Linked DNA regions of Homo sapiens: all the other regions are linked to region 3. Evidence: fine-mapped expression QTL. A gene starts in region 3. Each other region holds a variant in brackets. All regions are shown on one strand. Distances are from middle to middle.

Evidence for each region.
Region 1: its variant is fine-mapped to the expression of SREK1IP1 in whole blood (INTERVAL, PIP above 0.99).
Region 2: its variant is fine-mapped to the expression of SREK1IP1 in whole blood (TOPMed, PIP 0.97).

The regions. Positions count from the first base shown.
Region 1 is chr5:64,740,936-64,747,586 of GRCh38, forward strand. SREK1IP1 (SREK1 interacting protein 1) reads right to left here. Exons shown (of 5, transcript NM_173829.4): 3 at 122-265. Among named protein-coding and RNA genes, the nearest start is that of SREK1IP1, 24 kb to the right of the region's middle. The variant A/C (reference allele first, on the strand shown) is at 3,109.
Region 2 is chr5:64,721,814-64,728,464 of GRCh38, forward strand. It overlaps SREK1IP1 (SREK1 interacting protein 1), which reads right to left. Exons shown (of 5, transcript NM_173829.4): 4 at 6,294-6,366; 5 at 1-2,760. The coding sequence ends at 2,571. Among named protein-coding and RNA genes, the nearest start is that of SHISAL2B, 35 kb to the left of the region's middle. The variant T/G (reference allele first, on the strand shown) is at 2,676.
Region 3 is chr5:64,765,125-64,771,775 of GRCh38, forward strand. SREK1IP1 (SREK1 interacting protein 1) reads right to left here and starts at 3,567. Exons shown (of 5, transcript NM_173829.4): 1 at 3,381-3,567. The coding sequence starts at 3,393. CWC27 (CWC27 spliceosome associated cyclophilin) reads left to right here and starts at 3,806. Exons shown (of 14, transcript NM_005869.4): 1 at 3,806-4,064. The coding sequence starts at 4,023. It overlaps LOC124900985 (a long non-coding RNA gene), which reads right to left and starts at 3,372. Exons shown (of 4, transcript XR_007058787.1): 1 at 1,831-3,372. RefSeq lists silencers at 1,116-1,255, 3,318-3,612 and enhancers at 2,851-3,577, 2,949-4,148, 3,300-3,389, 3,540-3,859, 3,578-4,302.

The DNA of each region.
Region 1 (6,651 bases), 24 kb before region 3:
CCTATGCAGTAGCTCTTACATAAACTATAAAAGAGATCTTAGTAAGTATAATGGAAAGCATGATATAATATGACAGAACATTTACAAACATTTCTAAAGAATGGAAAAAAATATTGCTTACTTTTTTCCTGTAATGCCTGCAATTTATTCAGTTCTTCATTCTCTTCATCGCTATCTTCACTACTTGTACTGCTGACATCCAAAACTATGTCCCTTTTAGGGTCTACTCGGAGAAAATTGCGGCATTCAAAAGTCAGGTGACCAGCTAAGTGAAACAAACAAAAAAAATGTGAGTGATAAAACTATAGATACATTATGTATTTTTGTATGTTTTGCTGCCTCACGGTAACCAGTAAGTTACAATTTCAATAATATAATGTAGAAAGCTTTAACTTTTATTCAGTTGGTAGTAGTTTGGTTATTTTCCCTATACTTTTCCATGAATGCAATACTCAGAAAGAACTTTTTCCTTTCTTCCTCAGAACTCCTTATTCAATAAGCATTTTTGGGGGCCACTTCTTATGGATTTCAAAGTATTGAGTTATTCTATTTCCCTTTCTAAAAATACAGTAATATCTTTAACTAAACTAAGTAAATAAAAAATACCATCATACTTGGGATTTTATATTATATTCCTTTCCCATACCTTTTCTTTCCCAGTTTGACAAATGTACTCATGCAATTATATACCTTTCATCTAATTAAAGTTGGCATAATAATATACAAGCATTAATATAACTGAATGTGCTTTACTAAAGAATACCTAAACATTTAATTCTTGCATCATTTCCCTAAAGACTCTACCCTATAAGAAAACTACAACAGTTATCTACTTATGTATATGTTTTAGAAAGTCAAATATTACAAACACTATAAAAGTAAAGAAAATAATATAACCAATACCTAAATACCTATCATCCAAATGTTAACATTTTGTCATGCTCACTTTCAATTCATTTAAGGAAAAAGCTCACTCGCATGCCTGTGCGCACACACACACACAGCTGGAGAGCTTGTATCAACTTTTGGAACACTTTCTCAATCTCATTCCATTTTTTTTTTTTTGTCCTCTGAAGCAACTGCACTGAAGTTGGTCTCTATCATTCCCAAACAACATATTGTGATATGTATTCTTAAAAAAATAAACTCAATTATACCTATACCTGCAATTTTTTCCTGCCACCCAATATTTTGTGATTTATCTATGTTAACATAACAGGTGTAATTTGCTCATTTTATCTAATCGATAATGTTCTACTGTATGAAAATTATATTTATTTGCTGTACTATTGATAGAAACGTAGGTTGCTTCCAGTAGTTTGCTATTATAAAAAGTGTTTAAATGGGCAGTTGTACATGTCTCTTTGTGCACATGTACTAGGTTTTCTTTAGGGTAGCAGCTTTCAAGTTTTCTTAACAACCGAGAACAGTAAAAAATAATGCAAACAAGTGCACTCATACACACATTCATGGATAAATACACCCTAACACACAAAAACTGAAACAAAAGTTAATTGAAAGATTTCTATATTCAATGTTCAAAACAACCAAGGCTAATGGTGATCAAATAATTCATTTCACGATCCACTAATGATTCACTACAAATCTATGCTAGGGGTTGTTTCCAGTTGTCTCTTATTTTGTGGGTGAAGTCCTTTGGGAGTCCTAGGTTTATACCAGAGACTCTCTAAATAGAGTTCCAATTTGGCTTGGGCAGGGCCCTGGGCCTTATTTTTATCCCCCACATCCTGCCAGCCCATAAAAAATAGAAGTTCAAGAGCCTAGGGTTCATCAAATATCCTCAAGGCTTAATTCCTGGAACTTCTCCTTTCCTTTGGTTGTTGGCCTTTGAATATTCTTAGTTCTTTATTTTTTTCTAGTATATTAATGTATCTAAAATATGTATTGCACATTTTATACAAGTTTCTTAGTTGTTTCTTAGTCTAGTCTGCCATATTATTGGAACAAGTTTTCCTCACTGTGATTTCCTAACAAATGAATCATTCAGAAGCACTCTTTTTAGCTTCCAAACATATGGAGTTTTCAGGCTTTGTGTTTATTGTCAATCTCTAAATTTACTACACTGTTATCAGAGAATGGGATCTGTATGATATTAGTTCTTTGGTATTTGATGAGACTTCTTTTGTGGCCTAGGATGTAGTAAATTTAGGAAAGATTTGTTATGTATTTTGAAAACACAGTCATATACTGCATAATGGTGTTTAGGTCAATGATGGACCACATAGACAACACAGGTCCCATAAGATAATAATACTGTTCCTTGTCAATGTTTAGATATGTTTAGACACACAAATACTTACTACTGTGTTACAACTGCCTACACTATTCAGTACAGTAACATGCTATACAGGTTCATAGCCTAGCAACAATAGGCTATACCATGTAGCCTAGGTGTGTAGTAGACTATACATCCAAGTTTGTGAAAGTACACTCTATAATTTCCACACAAAGATGAAATTGCCTAATGACACACTTCTCAGAATGTATCCCTGTTGTTAAACAACACAACCATATATTGTTATTTGTTGAAAAGGGTTCTATATCTGTTTGCTTGTTCAACTCTTCTCCATCTTAATTTTTTTGTCTAATAACTTCTGATAGAAGTACTTAAAATTATACAAGTATTGATTTGTCAATAATTGCTATTATAAATAATGTTGAAATGAGCAGCTGTAGACATCTCTGTGGGCATGCACCAGGTTTTCTCTAGGGTAGATTTGTCAATTTCTCCTTGTAACACAGATTTTGCTATATATTTTGAGACATTAGTAAATGCTTTGAAGATCATTACTTTATCTTTTTAGTTTATTGTTCGTGAGTTTCCACTTATCACCAGTAGTGCTTTTGCCTCAAAAGTCTGAAATTATAATGGTTCTGTTATAGTAGGTAGCTAGTCAGGCATGAGTGGAGCAGGAGAGGGCTCCCCCACTCACAAAGGAACATCAGGCAACCATCAAGTGATGGTCCAGCAGCTGTCACACTGTCTCTCTAAAATGATAATTGGTCACAGCCAGTGCCAGGGAGAAGCAGTTTCTGAACAGATAAAAATACCTGAAATTGATAATCAGCAGCTTCCAATAAGATCTC[A/C]GGAACCGGGCAAGTGGACACAAGCATGTGCATTAAGAGGCAAAAATGAAGGAGTATGACCTTCTGGGGGCATTCCACCAGAAAAGGGAAGAAAAAGCCTCAGGTGAACATGTGTACAACTCCAGTAAACACACTGTGCATGCTCACCTCCCAAGCGCAGGTAGGGCACCATGCATAAGAGAACAATGAAGGGAAAGGGGTGCAAGACGCTGGAAGTAAGCCAGCATGTAAAATGCTAGGTTCAATGTTAATTGGGGCACTTAACCTCAAGGTGCCTGTCTGGGCCTCTTCCAAGTATATTTTCCTTTCTTTCGTTCCTGCTTTAAAGCTTTTTAATAAATGTCTACTCCTGCTCTGAAACTTGCCTCAGTCTCTTCTTCTGTCTCATGACCCTCAGTAGAATTCTTTCTTCTGAGGTGGCAAGAATAGAGGTTGCTGCAGACCTGGACGGATTCGCCACCGGTAACTAGGATACCCACCACCGCTAACAGTTCCACTAGTGCTCTTTTGTTTATTATTCGTTGGGTAATATGAAATTGCCATTTTTGTAGGTAAAATAGTGGAATATCAGCAATGTTCAATCAAATATGTGTTTTTTCCTTGTCCCTTTATTTTGAAAATTTCTGTGTAGTTTTTAGTTTTATGTGTAGTTTTATTAATCACAACACGTAGTTGGACTTAATTTTTTAAATTTGATTTGATATCAGCACAATTTTTAACATTAATTTCTTAGCATGGGAAAAATAGTTCCTGCTTCACAGGAAGCCGTGTAAATTCACTCCTCATACTTACATATACTTACAAGGTATAGGCTGAGGTTGCCAATTCTTATTTGTTTTCTTCTAATTATCTTATGGGAACTCAAACACACTATACGCATTCTTGCTTCTTTCAGTGAGTGAAATTTTTTCTAATCCCTGCTTCACAGCCTTTTTAAGGAGTCTGACTTTACTTGAGGGGCTCCACCCTTGCCATACTGCCATCCCCAGGGCTTGAAAGTGTCACTCCACAGCTCTTAAACACCTACCCAGTAGGCCTGTGGATCCACTGTTTTCAGTAAGATTCCCTGCTCTGACTTTGAGCTCATTTTCTTGTCTAGCACCTGGGGATTTCCCTTTCATTCTTTTGAGTTGGGTTTTTTTGTTGTTGTGGTTGCTGTTGACATAACACTTTTTTCCTCCTGCATTGTTACATGTTTGGAGCAGAATGGTGGGCTTTCTAGGTTGGTTTGGCTTGCCTCTTTGATCAGAACTCCTGATGATACAGGCTGGGCATGGTGGCTCATGCCTGTAATACCAGCACTTAGGGAGGCTGAGGCAGGTGGATCACTTGAGTCCAAGAGTTCAAGACCAGCTTGGCCAACATGGCGAAATCCTGTCTCTACTAAAAATACAAAAATTAACGGCATGGTGGTGCATGCCTGTAATTCCAGCTACTCAGGAGGTTAAGGCACAAGAATTGCTTGAACCTGGGAGGTGGAGGTTGCAGTGAGCTGAGATTGTGCCACTGCACTCCAGCCTGGGCAGCAGAGTAAAACTGCCTCAAAAAAAAAAAAAACTCCTGATGCTCAATCTTTACAGTACTTAAGCTAGCTTTGTACCCAAATACCTCTCATCCTCTCATTGAAATGAATATTAAAAATAAATAAAATGCTTAAATAATGACCATACTGGTAGCAGTCTCTGCCCCACATCCATTTTAGCTTTGCTTCAAGCAAAGCGACCCTAAGGTGATAAGACAAATTAATTGCAAAACTACAAATAAAGTTTCTTACTGATTTTTTTTTCTATTGGGGAATAAGTTAGTGAAGCCTAGGTAATAACTGTGTTGCAAATTACAGTTCTTATGGCTAGCAATCTAAATGTTCTTACAGCAAACAATGTAGAAGAAAAAAAAAGGTGGAGGATTCACCCTTCTGGATTTTAAAATTTATTATAAATCTATAGCAATCAAAGCAGTTGGTACTGGCATAAGAATAGACACACAGACCAATGGAATAGAATTGAAAGTCCAGAAATAAACCCACATATACATAGCGAACTGAGTTTTAGCAAGAGTGAAAGTCCATCCAGTGTGGAAAGAATTGTCTTTTCAACAGATGGTACAGAGACAACTTTTCCACATGGGAAAGAATGTAGTTGGACCCCTCACCTCAGACTATATGTAAAAATTAACTAAAAATGGGTCAAATAAAATAAAATATAAAACCATAAAGCTCTTAGAAGAAAGCATAGGAGTAAATGTTCATTACCTTGGATTTGGCAATGGATTCTTAGATCTAACACCAAAAGCACAAGCAACAAAAGAAAAAAATTGATAAAATGGTCGTCAGAATTAAAAACTTTTGTGCAAAATTATCAGGAAAGTGAAAAGGGAGAATATATTTGCAAATCATCTATCTGGTAGAGCTTAATATCCAGAATACATAAAGAACAACTATAACTCAACAAAAACACAACCTAGTTAAAAAATGAGCAAAGGCCTTGAATAGACATTTGTCTATAGAAGAAATACAAATGGTGAATAAGCACATGAAAAGATACTTAACATCATTAGTCATTAAAGAAATGCAAATCAAAACCACAATGAGGTACCACTTCATACCTATGAGGATGATCTGAATTGTTTCTACTCACAACGCTTCTGACATCAAATGTGTGGGTTTTTTCCACACCAACAGCCAGTTCTCCAACTTTCTGGACACTAACTGGGTGTTCAACAATTCAATTCAATTCTGTTACTACCCAGGGTTAGCACAAGTTAAGGGCTCAGACCCACAAGACTATTCCCATTTCTGATGCCTATAGCGAGTCTAGGCCACCCATACTTCTGACCAGCCAGCTTTATAAGGTCAGGGGGTTCCCATAACCCCATTCTCAAATTCGAAAATTTGCTAGAAAGGCTCACAGAACTCAGCAAAACAGTTTACTTACTATTACCTGTTTATTATATAGCACGGAACTCAGAACAGCCAAATGGAGGAGATGCGTAGGGCAAAGAAGGGGCATAGGGAAAAGAAGGGGCATAGAGCTTCCATGTGCTCTCTGTGTGCCACAATCGTGGCACTTCTGTGTGTTCACAAACCCAGCAGCTCTCTGTACCCTGTAGTTTAGGGGTTTTTATGAAGGCCCCATTAGATAGGCGTGATTGATTCAATCACTGACCACTGGTGATTAAATTCAATCTCTAGCTCCTCATCCTTCTCCCCTTTCTAGAGGTCTGGAAGTGGGGCTGAAAGCTCCAACTTTCTAATCACATGGATTGTTCCTCTGGCAAATGGCCTCCATCCTGAAATTATCTAGGAGCCTCCCAAGAATCGCCTTATTAGTATAAACTCAGGCATGGTTGAAAGGGGCATGCTATGAATAATAAAAGATGCTCCTATCACCCGTATCACTCAGGAAATTCCAAGAGTTTTAGAAGCTCTGTGTCAAGAACCAGGGACAATGACCAAATATACATTTCTTATGATCATAAATGGCTATTTTTTAAAAGGGAAAATACGAGTGTTGGCAAAAAGGTAGAGAAATTAGAGCCCTTGTA
Region 2 (6,651 bases), 43 kb before region 3:
TAATAATTTCTAAAGTGAATATTGCTTGAATTTTAAAATATTGATAATTATATATATTAAACCTTGAAGTGATTTCAGAGATAATCTGGTACAATATTTTATAGACGAAAGACACCAAGGCCCAGGGAAACTAAGTGACTTTGTTCAAGATCATACAGGTAGTTAGAATGACCAGGACTGTTTTACTGCTAAATTCAGTTTTCCTTCTGGTACATACTGCCTGGGAGGGAATTTCATTAATTTTCTTCTAAAACATATTCATGAGATTTGCATCCAATCTCAATAATAATATCATATTAGAAGAAAATTACTTCAGTGAAAATAAATTTTTATTCAATTTCATAAACTATGCTAAAATTATGGGAAATTTACTTAGAAATGCCAACATCATTTCTGGGGGGAAAATTACTGATCATTAAAATATTTTAATTTGCATACTACATTAGTTAACGAGGACTGACTTTTGCTCTTCTCAGTCATTATTGTGTCACCATTCAGAAACCTAATGAGCCAATTTATAATCTCTACAATTAACAGTAATAAAACTTACAAGTAATTAACTATTTCACTACAATTACTATCATTTTTAACTATCTTACTCAATGGAATAAGGTCATTGCCTTTGTAGCATTTTCTAATTATTTTTTAATATTTTATTTTACTGTTATTTTTTCAAGGCTAGTCAAGTCAAGCAGTGGGAGTAAAGAAACACCACTGCACTTGTGCCAGCCTCGTTTTTAAAAAAGCTTTATATTAAAAACCGATTTTTAAAATCTTGATAATCGAAGAATATTTTCAAAAAACTAGCAGCAAAGGCAAAACAAATCCCTAAAAACCTACTGGCTCTGTATTTTTTCTCCCAGTAACTGACTGACCTATTTAAACAAAAGCATTTCCTTTTGAGAGGCCCAAATGACTAAATTAGGTTATGGAAGGGTTGAAAGCGTGAGAGCTCTCATGGCTGCAATGCAGAGGGCTGTGGATACAGCTTCCCTAGAATTTAAGCATGGGTAAGCATATGTTAAGAGGAGTTATAAGGCTCCCTGAGTCTTACTGAGGGTATCCACATTGGGTGCCAGGTGAAACAAGAATCAGTAAACCTTTCTAGCCTGTGAGGTTAAGTATACTTAGCTGATTTCACTATCATGAATTCACCTGCAGCCGTATCTATAGGTTATCAATTTGAAAATTTCTAAGCGCACCATAGTGAGGTATTTGCAATCTTTGGTGCTGTGCCATGACATTGGTTGATGTTCGATGCTTCTACAACATAAGCATTTACTTTAGTGGACATAAGGGCTACCTAAGTATTAAGCAAAGTAACACTGATCAATGTGAAAATAGAAATTTAAAAAACGTATCTACTAATATGTGTTTGAAAATGCTTACCCATATAAAATTTCCATTATTATACAAAGGCTTTCATGATGCAACTCCCTGGCTCTTAAATTTTAAAAAGTACAGAATAAAATTCTCAATTCTTTTTTTGACACTTTTTACTCTTGAGTTTGCCACTAAAGTAAAAGAGAGAAACATCCCAAACTGGTCATTTATGAAAACGTTAAGTTCAGTGTGAAACTTGCTTTAAAACTACAAATTATGTCAGACAAAATAAATATATATGCTCACATTTATAAAATTTTCCACAGTACTCATAGAAACAAGCTTCATAAAATTTATACTGAATACAATAAAAATCAGTTCTAATAAAGATTTAGCTATCTTCCTAAATAAAAATTTCTGTGTTTGAGGTATCACTGTAAGACATGCCAATATGGCACATTTGTAAAACAACCCAGGAGTCTATTCTAAAAATCACAACCAACTCAGCATCATCTCTGCAGACTTACTAACAGGCTGAACTAATCTCTTTATACAAGAAGTATTTTAATTATTACAAAAACAAAGGAGGCAGGTACTAGAAATTCTGCATTTCATAGAAGAGTAAAACTTTGTTAGAGATATTTTCATGATCATCTACCTGCAGACACCATTCATTTAAAAAGTCCTAGTCAAGACCATTAAGCAGCTGCATCTTCTACAACATTGAAAAAAAATCCCTAGAGATTTAAAAAACTGAAGAATTTCACTATCTTTAAAAGATATTATATTTTAGTACATAAAGCTATTAAATTTCTCTGTGTCAAGAGCAAAACATTACCCCTTACCTTGCTTCATCATTGGAAGGTGGACACCTGATCCAGCAATACTCATTAACTGCTAGGTAGATGACCCATGTTGATGGCAGTAAAGCCATTTTACAATGAACTTATGAAGTAGTAACACTAGCCAAACACACAGAGACACAAATACCAAAAATGATGTGTTTAGTATACACAAATAGCTATACTTGGGGCATGGCTATCAAGTAACAAGACTGATTTAATACTTTACAGTTACAGCACATTAAAAATATATTGCCAGAGGGATAATGGTCCCAAATACGAAAAATGTCTATATGGAAAAGGCTGTGATTTATTGCAAAGCATAATATATAGCAAATTCCAAGGAAGGGCAAACACGTTTTAAAAACAAATTTTTAAATTTAACGGCTTAAGCCAAAGTCTCAGTTACTTTCTGGAGAATTCAGAACTATTAGGTGTAGAAGAATGCTTTTCCTTTTTTCTCTTCTTTTTTTCCTTTTTGTGATGTTTCCCTTTTTTTGATTTACTCTT[T/G]TTTTCTTTTTTCTTTTCTTTCTTCTGATATTTTTGTTTCTTTTGTTTTGAAGTGTCCTCTTCAGTGGAACTGGATGAGTAAGACCTATGGATAATAATACATACTGACTGAGAATTGCATTTATGACTGATAGATAAATTTAAGTGGGATTTGAACTGCCTTAAATTCTTCTTGGAGTAAGGTAGGGAGTATAAACATAAACTTAAAAAATGCTTCATATATTTGCATTCCCTTAAAACGATGAATTTAGAATTTTTGCTGCTTGGTCACAGAAACCAACAAAACTAGTATCTATTCCACTCAATACTAATGTAATGAGTTTTAAAGTCAATAAGGATGAAATTATTTTTCTGTGATTTTTGGTTTTTCATGCAGTCATATCATTCAAAATCCTAAAAGGCAAACAAAGGGGCATTCACCAAGCCTTATTATATTCACTTGTGTATACAATAACTTCGCATATTTTCTTAAAAGTGTCTCAAAAGTTGCAATTCTCTATTTTAAAGGGCTATAATTGTACGTTCATATGAATGAATGAAAGCTGAAAGTTAGCAAAATAAAAGCACTTTTGGTAATTCTTCTGATTTTTCAAGTACTTGATCCCTCTAGACGGAGAGTGATACAGATGAATACTTGCATTACAAAATAATTTTCATTAGTTACAAAAGGATGCTTTTATGCTATATATAAATGAAAAAGGATGGGTTATCATTGTGCTTTTGAAAAATATTACTCTAATACTAAATTGAAAAAATTGGTTCAATTCCTTCCTCTAATATTCATAAAAAAAAGGAAAAGAAAAAGAAAAAAACAGAAAACCCTATCTTTTAAGATCTTACTTAAAGAGATGTGCAACATTCTACCTATACTCAAACTCAAAATATGAGTGACAAGACAGAAACTGAGTTAATTTAAAATGTAAACAAAGGTATCTAAAGAGTTAGTTTAGTGATCTAAATATTAGGAGTTAAAACTCAAACTAAGAAAATCTGAGACGGATATAAAGGAGGTGCCAATGTAAATTCAGGAGACTACAGGGCTCCAAGGCTATTTTGTGTCTGTATAGTGTGTGAATTCCTTGACTGCCTTCCTCCTTTAGTGACTCCGAGTTTTCCCTTATTTTTGTAATGTTGTGTTCCTTTTTCCTCCTTGTTTGTCTACTTACTTAGACTTCCAATCATCTGTTAAAGCTTATTTTCTCATGTATTCTCCTGCACCCTTGCCTCTTCAGTTGTTATTCTCAAATCTTGTCTATTTTCCTCTTTTAAAGACCCTGTTTGACTTGACCTCTGGATTCTGACTAAAGCTTCTTCCCTGCCTGCACTTTTTTCTTTAGCTTTTTGGTCCTGAAGTTTTTTTTTTTGTTTGTTTCTTTTTTTTTTTTTTTTTTCTGAGACAGAGTTTCACTCTTGTTGCCCAGGCTGGAGTGCAATGGCGTGATCTCGGCTCACTGCAACCTCCGCTCCCCCGAGTTCAAGCAATTCTCCTGCCTCAGCCTCCCAAGTAGCTGGGATTACAGGTACCCACCTGTAATCCACCAGCTAATTTTTTTTGTATTTTTAGTAGAGATGGGGTTTCACTGTGTTGGCCAGGCTGGTCTCAAACTCCAGACCTCAGGTGATCGACCCACCTTAGCCTCCCAAAGTGCTGGGATTATAGGAGTGAGCCACCGTGCCTGGCCTGAAGTCTCCTTTTTAAGGCAAAATTTCAGGCTGTGGCATAGCAACACTTTCAGGGGGCACTATCTCTGCTAAGTGTGCACAGAAAAGTTAATTTAATTTCAGGTTTGTGATGCTCAAGGTAAAGAGGCCCAAATAAATAATCTGTTACTATAAAAAATATTTGGGAGGCTGAGGCAGGCGGATCACAAGGTCAGGAGATTGAGACCATCCTGGCTAACACGGTGAAACCCTGTCTGTACTAAAAATACAAAAAAATTAGTCGGGCATGGTGGTGGGCACCTGTAGTCCCAGCTACTGGGGAGGCTGAGGCAGGAGAATGGAGTGAACCCGGGAGGCGGAGCTTGAAGTGAGCTGAGACTGTGCCACTGGACTCCAGCCTGGGCAACAGAGCGAGACTCTGTCTCAAAAAAAAAAAAAAAAAAGAAATATACAGATGTACTTCAACTTATGATGGAGTTACGCCTTGATAAATCTATCTGAAGCTGAAAATACACAAAATACAGCTAACCTACTGAACATCATAGCTTAACGTGGCTGCCCTTAAATATGCTCAGAACACTTACATTAGCCTCTAGTTGGGCAAAATCATCTAACACAAAGCCTATTTTATAATAAAGCATTGAATATCTCATGTAATTTATTGAATACTGTCCTGAAAGTGAAAAATAGAATGGTTGTATGGGTACTTGAAGTACATTTCTACTGCACCATCATAAAGTTGAAAGATCATATCAAACCACATAAATTGGGAACTATCTGTATTAGAATTTGGAAGACTATCAGATATCATTTCCTGTGAGCAATCCATCTTCCTGTGCTAGAATAAATGATTTAATAATACATTAACAGAAAACCCTGAGCTCTAAATTCCTATTTGTTTTTATATTAAAGATTATTAGTTAACTCCTAACGCTTGAAAGTGGGCTACTTTTCCAATTTATAAGATACCTGAAATATTAAAATACATGTATTAAATGCTCTATAAAAACTACAAAGTGGCAGCCCCTGGTTTCTACAACCTATTCTGTATGAGAACTGGGTCTAAACTAGAAATAATTATGGTTAAGTGCTTTTAAAAAATGCCTGTATGTGCAAATTTATGCTAGTATGAATGAAACTGCACGCATTAACAAGAGAAGTGGCCACTTACTACTTTCAATAACTTCTTTAACCAGTTAGTTTTTAAAAGAGTTAATAGTAAAAATGCACAGGTGGCCGAAGACTGGAAGGAAGTTGTGATGCTAAAAATTCCTTCAGGTCTTTCACAACCCTCATCAGCCACCATATATATATATATATATGAAACTGTCAGGCTAAATACATATAAATACAAAGGTGTGTGTATGTGCATATAATTACATATATATATATATATATATATATTTTTTTTTTTTTGGTGGGCGGGGGGCAGATAGGGTCTTGCTGTGTTGCCCAGGCTGGAGTACAGTGGTGTGATCATGTCTCCTGGGCTCAAGCAATCCTCTCACCTCAGCCTTCCACATAGCTGGGAACACAGGTACATGCCACCACACTTGGATAATTTTTCTTTTACTTTTTGCAGAGATGAGGTCTCCCTATGTTGCCCAAGCCTGTCTCAAACTTCTGGGCTCAAGCCATTCTCCTGCCTTGACCTCTCAAAGTGCTGGGATTATAGGCATGAGCCATCGCACCTGGACAGCATGACAAGTTCTATTAAATTCTATTAATAAGTTAATTTATTAGCCATGGTAATATTACAAGAATACAAATATTTTAGTCAATTTCATGTATATGAAGACAAAATATATATTAAGAGTTTAAACTTAAGCTCAATGAAAAGCTTAGTTGTTGAAGAAAAAATATTAAATTAACTATTATACACAAAAAATAAAATTTTATAATCCATCCTAAACTCATAGGCCTGCTTTGTTTTTTAAAATGTTGTTCAAAAAATACCTTTTCCTTTTTTTTTTCAATTTGATTTTTTCTTTGCTTTTTTCTTTCTTCTTTTCCTCTTCTTCATTTATTCCTGTGGGGGAGAGGTGAGAAGAAAAAAATCTGGTTAATATATGATTCTATATATTAATATGGCATGTATATATGTTAAAATTTTAGCTGTTGGTGAATTTCACTGGTTAGGATAATTTTTGTAATAATTTTCCCCTTTCTTAATTATCTTTATCCATTAAAAAACTCATAAAAGTATTAAATGTTTTTTATAAACATTTCAAATACTAAGTCCATCAAGTAAAAAAATGCAAGTACCCCACCTCTAATTCCCATAGGAAATCAAGGCCAGTGGTTTGATGGGTAT
Region 3 (6,651 bases):
TGAATGGGAAAAGCAGTTTTTTCAAAGAAAGTAAATTTCACTGAAACCTGTGATCAAATATTATTTCTATAATAACAACTAAGAGTAAGATTTTCCTAAATGCCTACATTTCATTGCATTACCTACATAATGGTATACGCTTATACACAATGCTATGGAAACACGGGTGAAGCACATGATCATAAAACAGACAAGGCTGATTTTTATGTGTGGTTTGCAGAAAGCAGCCTTGTTACTTTATAATCATACCTTGTCATAATCACTAGCAGGACCACCCCAAGAAATGCCAAACTGAATCCATTAAACCTAAAATTAAAGAGCCTAACATAATACTTGTCCTCCTTGATGATAACCTTGAAAAGTTTAGATTAGCCCTATTTTCCTTTAATACCCTGTCTGGATCGATCATCTAAGAAATTATCTTACGATTTTCTGTATCTGTATTTTCTAATGACACTTGCATTGTACTTTTACAGCACTGTCACACCTATTATCTCAATTATTGCTGGGTTTAAACAGTTTATAGCTTGCCATCTAGCTTAATGGCACAATTTAACATTATTATACTTTGAAGCACTATTTTGAATTGAAAGAAGGTTAACATATCTATAACACTGGTCTAAGTTTAAGAGAATTTTAATGAGGCCTTAAAAAATCACTTTTGTCCCCTTTCTTAAGTAGCACATTTTCATGTACTGCTTAAAGTTTTATGAGGGCACAGACTATGACACTGTGTCCTCCAGTGTGCCCATATCACACAGGTGCCCAAAAGGCTTGCTCAAGTAATGAAATGAGCAGTGATAACAGGTCAACTTTGGGTGCAGCTGTGTGGTATAAAGATCACTAGAGCTGACTCGGCCTATCAGGATGCCTAGGCAATCTACTGTGTAGGTTTATCTTTCGCTGCTGGCCTCTTAGATGTTGACCAGGCTTCAGCCACAGACCTTCCCTTCACATTCTACACACCATCTAAGCAGAGTGCTCCACTCCCATAGCCTTACCTCCTATTATGTGTGTGGGTAACACCCAAATCATTGTCTTTGACTCTGACTTCTTTCCTAAGCTACAAATTATATCTCTTACTATTAACTATTTGCATTCCTATGTCTGACTAACCTCAACACAACAAGCCCCAGACTGGATGTCATCATCATCCCCTTAACCCCTGCCCCTTGTGAGGTGTTGTCATGTCAGTAAACAGCCCCACCCAATTGCTTAACAGTAAAACCCAGGTAAACCTCATTTCCTCTTTTACCTACCCACACTGAATCAATCACCAACTCCTAGTGACTCTACCACCAAAAATGTATCTTCAATTTATCCACTTCTCTCCTTACCTATTGAGACCACATCTCAGCCACACATCATTATAACTCACCAGAATTACTCCTAACTGGTAAACTTTGTCTCCAATCTACTTTCTAGCCAGAATTATCTTTCCAAAATGTGAATCTGCTTTAAAATCCTTAAATGGCTTCCTGCCATCTGTAGGATAATGCCAAACCTCTTGTCATGGCCTACAGGTCCTTAAAGAGCTGGAAACTACCTTGTAAGTTATCCTATACGATGGCAAAATGAATGAAGTACACAGTCTAGAGGAACCAGACTGACTTCTTGCTTTCCAGCTGTCTCATAATAGGCAAATTACTTGATTTCTTTGTCCCTCAGTGTCCTCATCTGTAAAATGGGAATATTAATACTCATTTCACAGTGCAGTTGTGAATATTAAATGAGATAGAATACAATGTTTGATATAGTATCTGACATATTTGACTTATAAATATTAGTCAATATTAGCTACAGTTACTATCTACTTAATTTCTCACTTACCTCCCATTTGTATTTGAGTTCTATCCACAGAAAACATCTTTCATTCTGACATATTTGACACATAAATATTAGTCAATATTAGCTACAGCTACTACCTCTGTACTTAATTTCTCACTTATCTCCCATCTGTATTTGAGTTCCATCCATAGAAAACATCTTTCATTTCCTCTTTTCACATATTTCCTCTTCCTTTACGTATCCAGTTCCTCCGACTGCAGTCTCCTCTCCCTTCAAGCCACCCCTCCTACAATTCAGATCTCCTCCTAAGTGCTACCTCCTTTGGAAAGTCCTTCTGCCCATCCTGTATGTGTTTGGTGCCCTTACTTTGTGCTAAGGTCTTGTATTTTCCTTGCCATGGCACTTGTCCCACTTTCTGTAAATTTCTCTCTCTTCACTGCTAAATTCTAAGTTCTGTGTGAAGCGTAACCATGTCTACCTTGCTCACCACTGTATTTCCAATGCCCAGTACCAGTGCCTGGCACACAGTAGGCTTAATAAAGAGTGTACATTTCCTCTCTCACAGCTCCAGATGTACTCCTCCGCAAACTTCAGTTAGTACAAAAGCACAGTGTTCCAATAACAGCTATCTGTAGAAGGAGGTTCAAAAAGGCTGCCACAGAATAAAGAACCTGGTCAAATAATACTGGGAAGTGCAGGTTTAAACAAAGTTAGGGTTCTGAACCATAGTAATTCTATAGTTCATAGTAATTCTATAGCAATTCATAGTATTCTATTCTAATAGAATAGAATCTTTTCTATTACTAAAGTGCGCTGGGAATTTCCAAGTTGGGAGGTGGGGTGGAGAAGTGTGTATTTCTGAAAATGTCTCCTGCAATCAGTGTTCTGCAGTGGCAAAGCTGGTTTGAGGAGATGCTTTCCGCTACTAGAACTTCCAAGTAAGCTGGTAGTTGAGGACGAGAAAATCTTTTAAGTAATTATTCTGCAGAGTTCACCGTTTTTAGGTCAGTAACTTCTGGACATAGAATTTGAGAGTTAGAAGAAATCTTATATATAATTCAACAAAGCTCCTTCTTTTTATAAGGAAACTGAGGCCCAGAAGCACAAAGCGACCAATCTATGGCCACGGAGCAGCTACATACAACAGGAAGAGCTAGGAGTAGAACCCGCACACCCGGTGGGTCCTAGCGACTTCTAAGACAAACGATGCCTCCGGTTACCTGGGTCGGCCAAGTGTTCCCACTTCAAGTTTTAGTTTTAAGCCATACCACAGTTAAGGTAGTTTTTCTCGGCCGCTTGCCCCCTTAGGCCTACAGTTACAGTCTCTCCCTCCTCCCTCCCTTCCACAATACACTTTCCCTGTAATCCCAAGCAGCTGGGGCTTGGCTCCTGGGGGGAAGATAGTTATTTTCTTTCCTTCAGAGTTTATGTTTGGAGTGTAAACTTTTTCATGTAAACAAAACAAACCTGTGAATTTTAAGGCCTCCGCCTAAATCCCCATGGGCGCTGCTCCGTACACGCCGCACCCTACCCTACCCTCCCTTGCGCTCCCTTCGGAGCTCGGACGCAGAGGCCCTGTAATTGCTCCTTACCTGGGACTGCCATGACGGTGGTAAGAGGGGTAACTCGAGCCTCTGGCTTTCGAAAAGGCGCTTGCTTCCCGCCAGCTGTGAGAACAAGGCACAGTCAAAGCGGCGTTTTCCTTCCCCCAGCGCAGCAGCACCCTCGCTACGGTCGGGAAGGGCCTGTACGCCTCTAGCGACGGCAGAACCAGTAGATGCGGATGCAGTTTCCGGACGAGTCATATTGCAGAAGACACATGGTCCGAACCATTACTGATAGTTTTGGAGGGGGAGTTAGTTTGATCTGCACACGAGAGTAGTGTAAACACCGCCAACACTTATGAAGTGTCCCTTCTAATATTGTAATACAAATAACATAAATAACATTAAGCTATGGTAACTTTACGGACTTTTCTCGTTCCCTGGAGTACATTGGAATAACCCTTCTCAGGGTTAGCGGTGCTCGGGTCCGGTAACAACATGGCGGCGTCCGTGAGGGGCTCCTTTGGGCAGGGGTAGTGTTTGGTGTCCCTGTCTTGCGTGATATTGACAAACTGAAGCTTTCCTGCACCACTGGACTTAAGGAAGAGTGTACTCGTAGGCGGACAGCTTTAGTGGCCGGCCGGCCGCTCTCATCCCCCGTAAGGAGCAGAGTCCTTTGTACTGACCAAGATGAGCAACATCTACATCCAGGAGCCTCCCACGAATGGGAAGGTGAGAGCCTCATCTAGGGAACTTGGGGTCCTGGGATCCCCAAAGTGAGATTTCCCGGATTTGGGGTGGGGAGTGGGTTTCAGGATCTCGTGGTAGGAAGAGACCACGAGAAGTGTTGTCTTTACTCCTGCATGTGGACAATGTTGCATCGAAACACTGATGTTGGTACTTTTCAGGATGTACTTGAAGAAGTCAAGTGGAGATTTCTCTACCTACCAGCATTCCGGTCCTATTTAATGCTTTAACCCAACTCATGCAGCCGATTTCTGGGGTCTTAGGTTTTTAAACAGACATTTTTGAGTTTGATATATTCTTTGCTTAACTAAGGTCATTCATTCTCCATTTCTTCTACAATCATTAATTGAACGCCTGCGAGGCACTGGGCACTGTACTAGGCGCCGGAGATACAAAGATGGATGGGTAAGGTAGTTGTTTTCCCGGAAAAGCTTATAGTTTAGTTTGTGAGACAGACAGGTAAACAAAAGCCTGTATGTCTGATAAGCGTGCTTGTGGAGAAGAGACCAGGTTGCTATGGCGGTACTGAGTAGTGAACAACTGGGGAAGTTAGGAAAAGCCTCATGGAAAAGATATCTTTTGAGCTGGTTTTAAAACCTGAGATGACTGTCAGTCAGAGAAAGTGGGAAATGGGGACTATTACCACATTAGAATGGGGAAAGGTTTCTCTGATTGATTTGATGGCTAATGTATGCCAATTCCCATCCAAGATGTTTGTATGCTGTACAAGGCAGAAGAGTCTGTTGTGGAATAAGTGTCACCTGAATTCTTAAATTGAGACCTAGCTTATATCACATATGAAATTTGATGAATCAGCATATTGGAGAAAATGAGATTGGAAGTATATAGTTGAATTAAGATAAGCTAAATTTACACAACATACCATCCTGTTTGTTACATGATTGCATCATAAATAATTTATACAGTCTTTTATTCATTGACATTTGATAATGTAATGAGAGCAATTTAAAAGTGAAACCAAAAATGCTGTAATTCCCAGCAAAAATGTAATGGATATTTTATGGGCAGACCAATTCTTTCAATTCTTTGTTTGAACTTCTCCTGGGCATTGTAGATTAGTATGTCCATCCCACCCCTCACCTATCTTATTTAATATCAATGTGAAAACCCAAAATACCTACCTCCTCCTATTTCCAAATGTTTCTTGAGGGCAATATCACCCCCAGTTAATAAACACTGGTAGAGATTGAATAGATTTACCATCCTGCCAGACAGGGCCTTCACACTTGCTGTTCCTCTGTCTAATCAAGTGTTGACCTTAGCAAAGAGCCCTTTCTTATCTACTTTCTATGAAATAGCAAACTTCAATCATGCCTTGCATCCCAGCAGTCTCTGGCCCCCTTAACCTTTTTAGTTTTTTTCATGGTATTTATTAATTATTTAGTATTACTGTATCCTTCCTCCTACCTTCCCCCTATAGAATGTAAGGAACATAAGGGCAGAGACAAGCATCTGGAACAGTACTTGATACATGATAGAAGGAGTTCAGATAGGTATTGAATAAATGAATGGATGGATGAATTAATACTATATTTTTCTTAGTTTTTGAGAAGTATTAAGCATCAGTGAGTTTGAGGTTATACTGCTGGTCAAGGACAGACTTAATTGCTTTATTCTAAAGCAAGATTTGACATGGTCATATAGATGAAAAGCTTTAACAAGGATACATTCCTGAATAGATTATTCATTCAACAAATAATGATTGAGCAAATCAATTGCCAGGCTCTATGCTAGGTTTTAGGGAGACAATGGAAAGAAAACACAGCATTGACTCAGTTGTCATGAGTTAGTTGAGTGAAGTATACATTGACTGAATAATCATGCAAATAAATGTTTAATTACAAAATGTGATAAATACTATCTTCTGAACAGAAATAGGCTGAATGATAACATAAGGGCCCAAGTTTTCATCCAAAAACAGCTTGGGACTTTTTCCAGCATAAGGCTCATCAAAGATATTAAAGCTTCTAAGTTCTGTAAGGTTAAGAGTGTGGACAAAAATTTGGTCTGTGAAGAATTTGAAGCACATGTAATAAGTCTGTTCAACGAATGTTTATTGCCTTTACTATCTAATGGTACATTAGGTGCTGAAAGCGTACAGAGACATTCAGAGTAAATGGGACAAAATTCCTCCCTTCAAAGAACTTAGTATCAGCTTGGGAAGTAATTGATACATGATACCAGTGCTTGGTCCCTGGTTGTCCATAAATGTTCTGTGTTTTGCTGTAACCCTAGCCCCTGAAGATGAGGCAAAGAAATGTAGTACTTGACAGAAAGTTTTTAAGCATAAGAGGTAATTCCCTGAAGATGAAATTTCCACATATTATGATCACTTATTCTAAATTGTGTCTGGCTTCTTCACTTAGTGTAATGTTGCTTTCAAATGATAGGGGTCTGTCTTCCTGTTGTACACACTTAGTTTTTAAATATCTTGAAAATCAAAATGGCTTTATAAGTATATTTGCATATATGTTTATAAGAAACATGATATTATCAAGGTATTAATTGGGAATTTTAAGAGAAAGAGCCAAGGAGGCCTACAAAGTAGTGA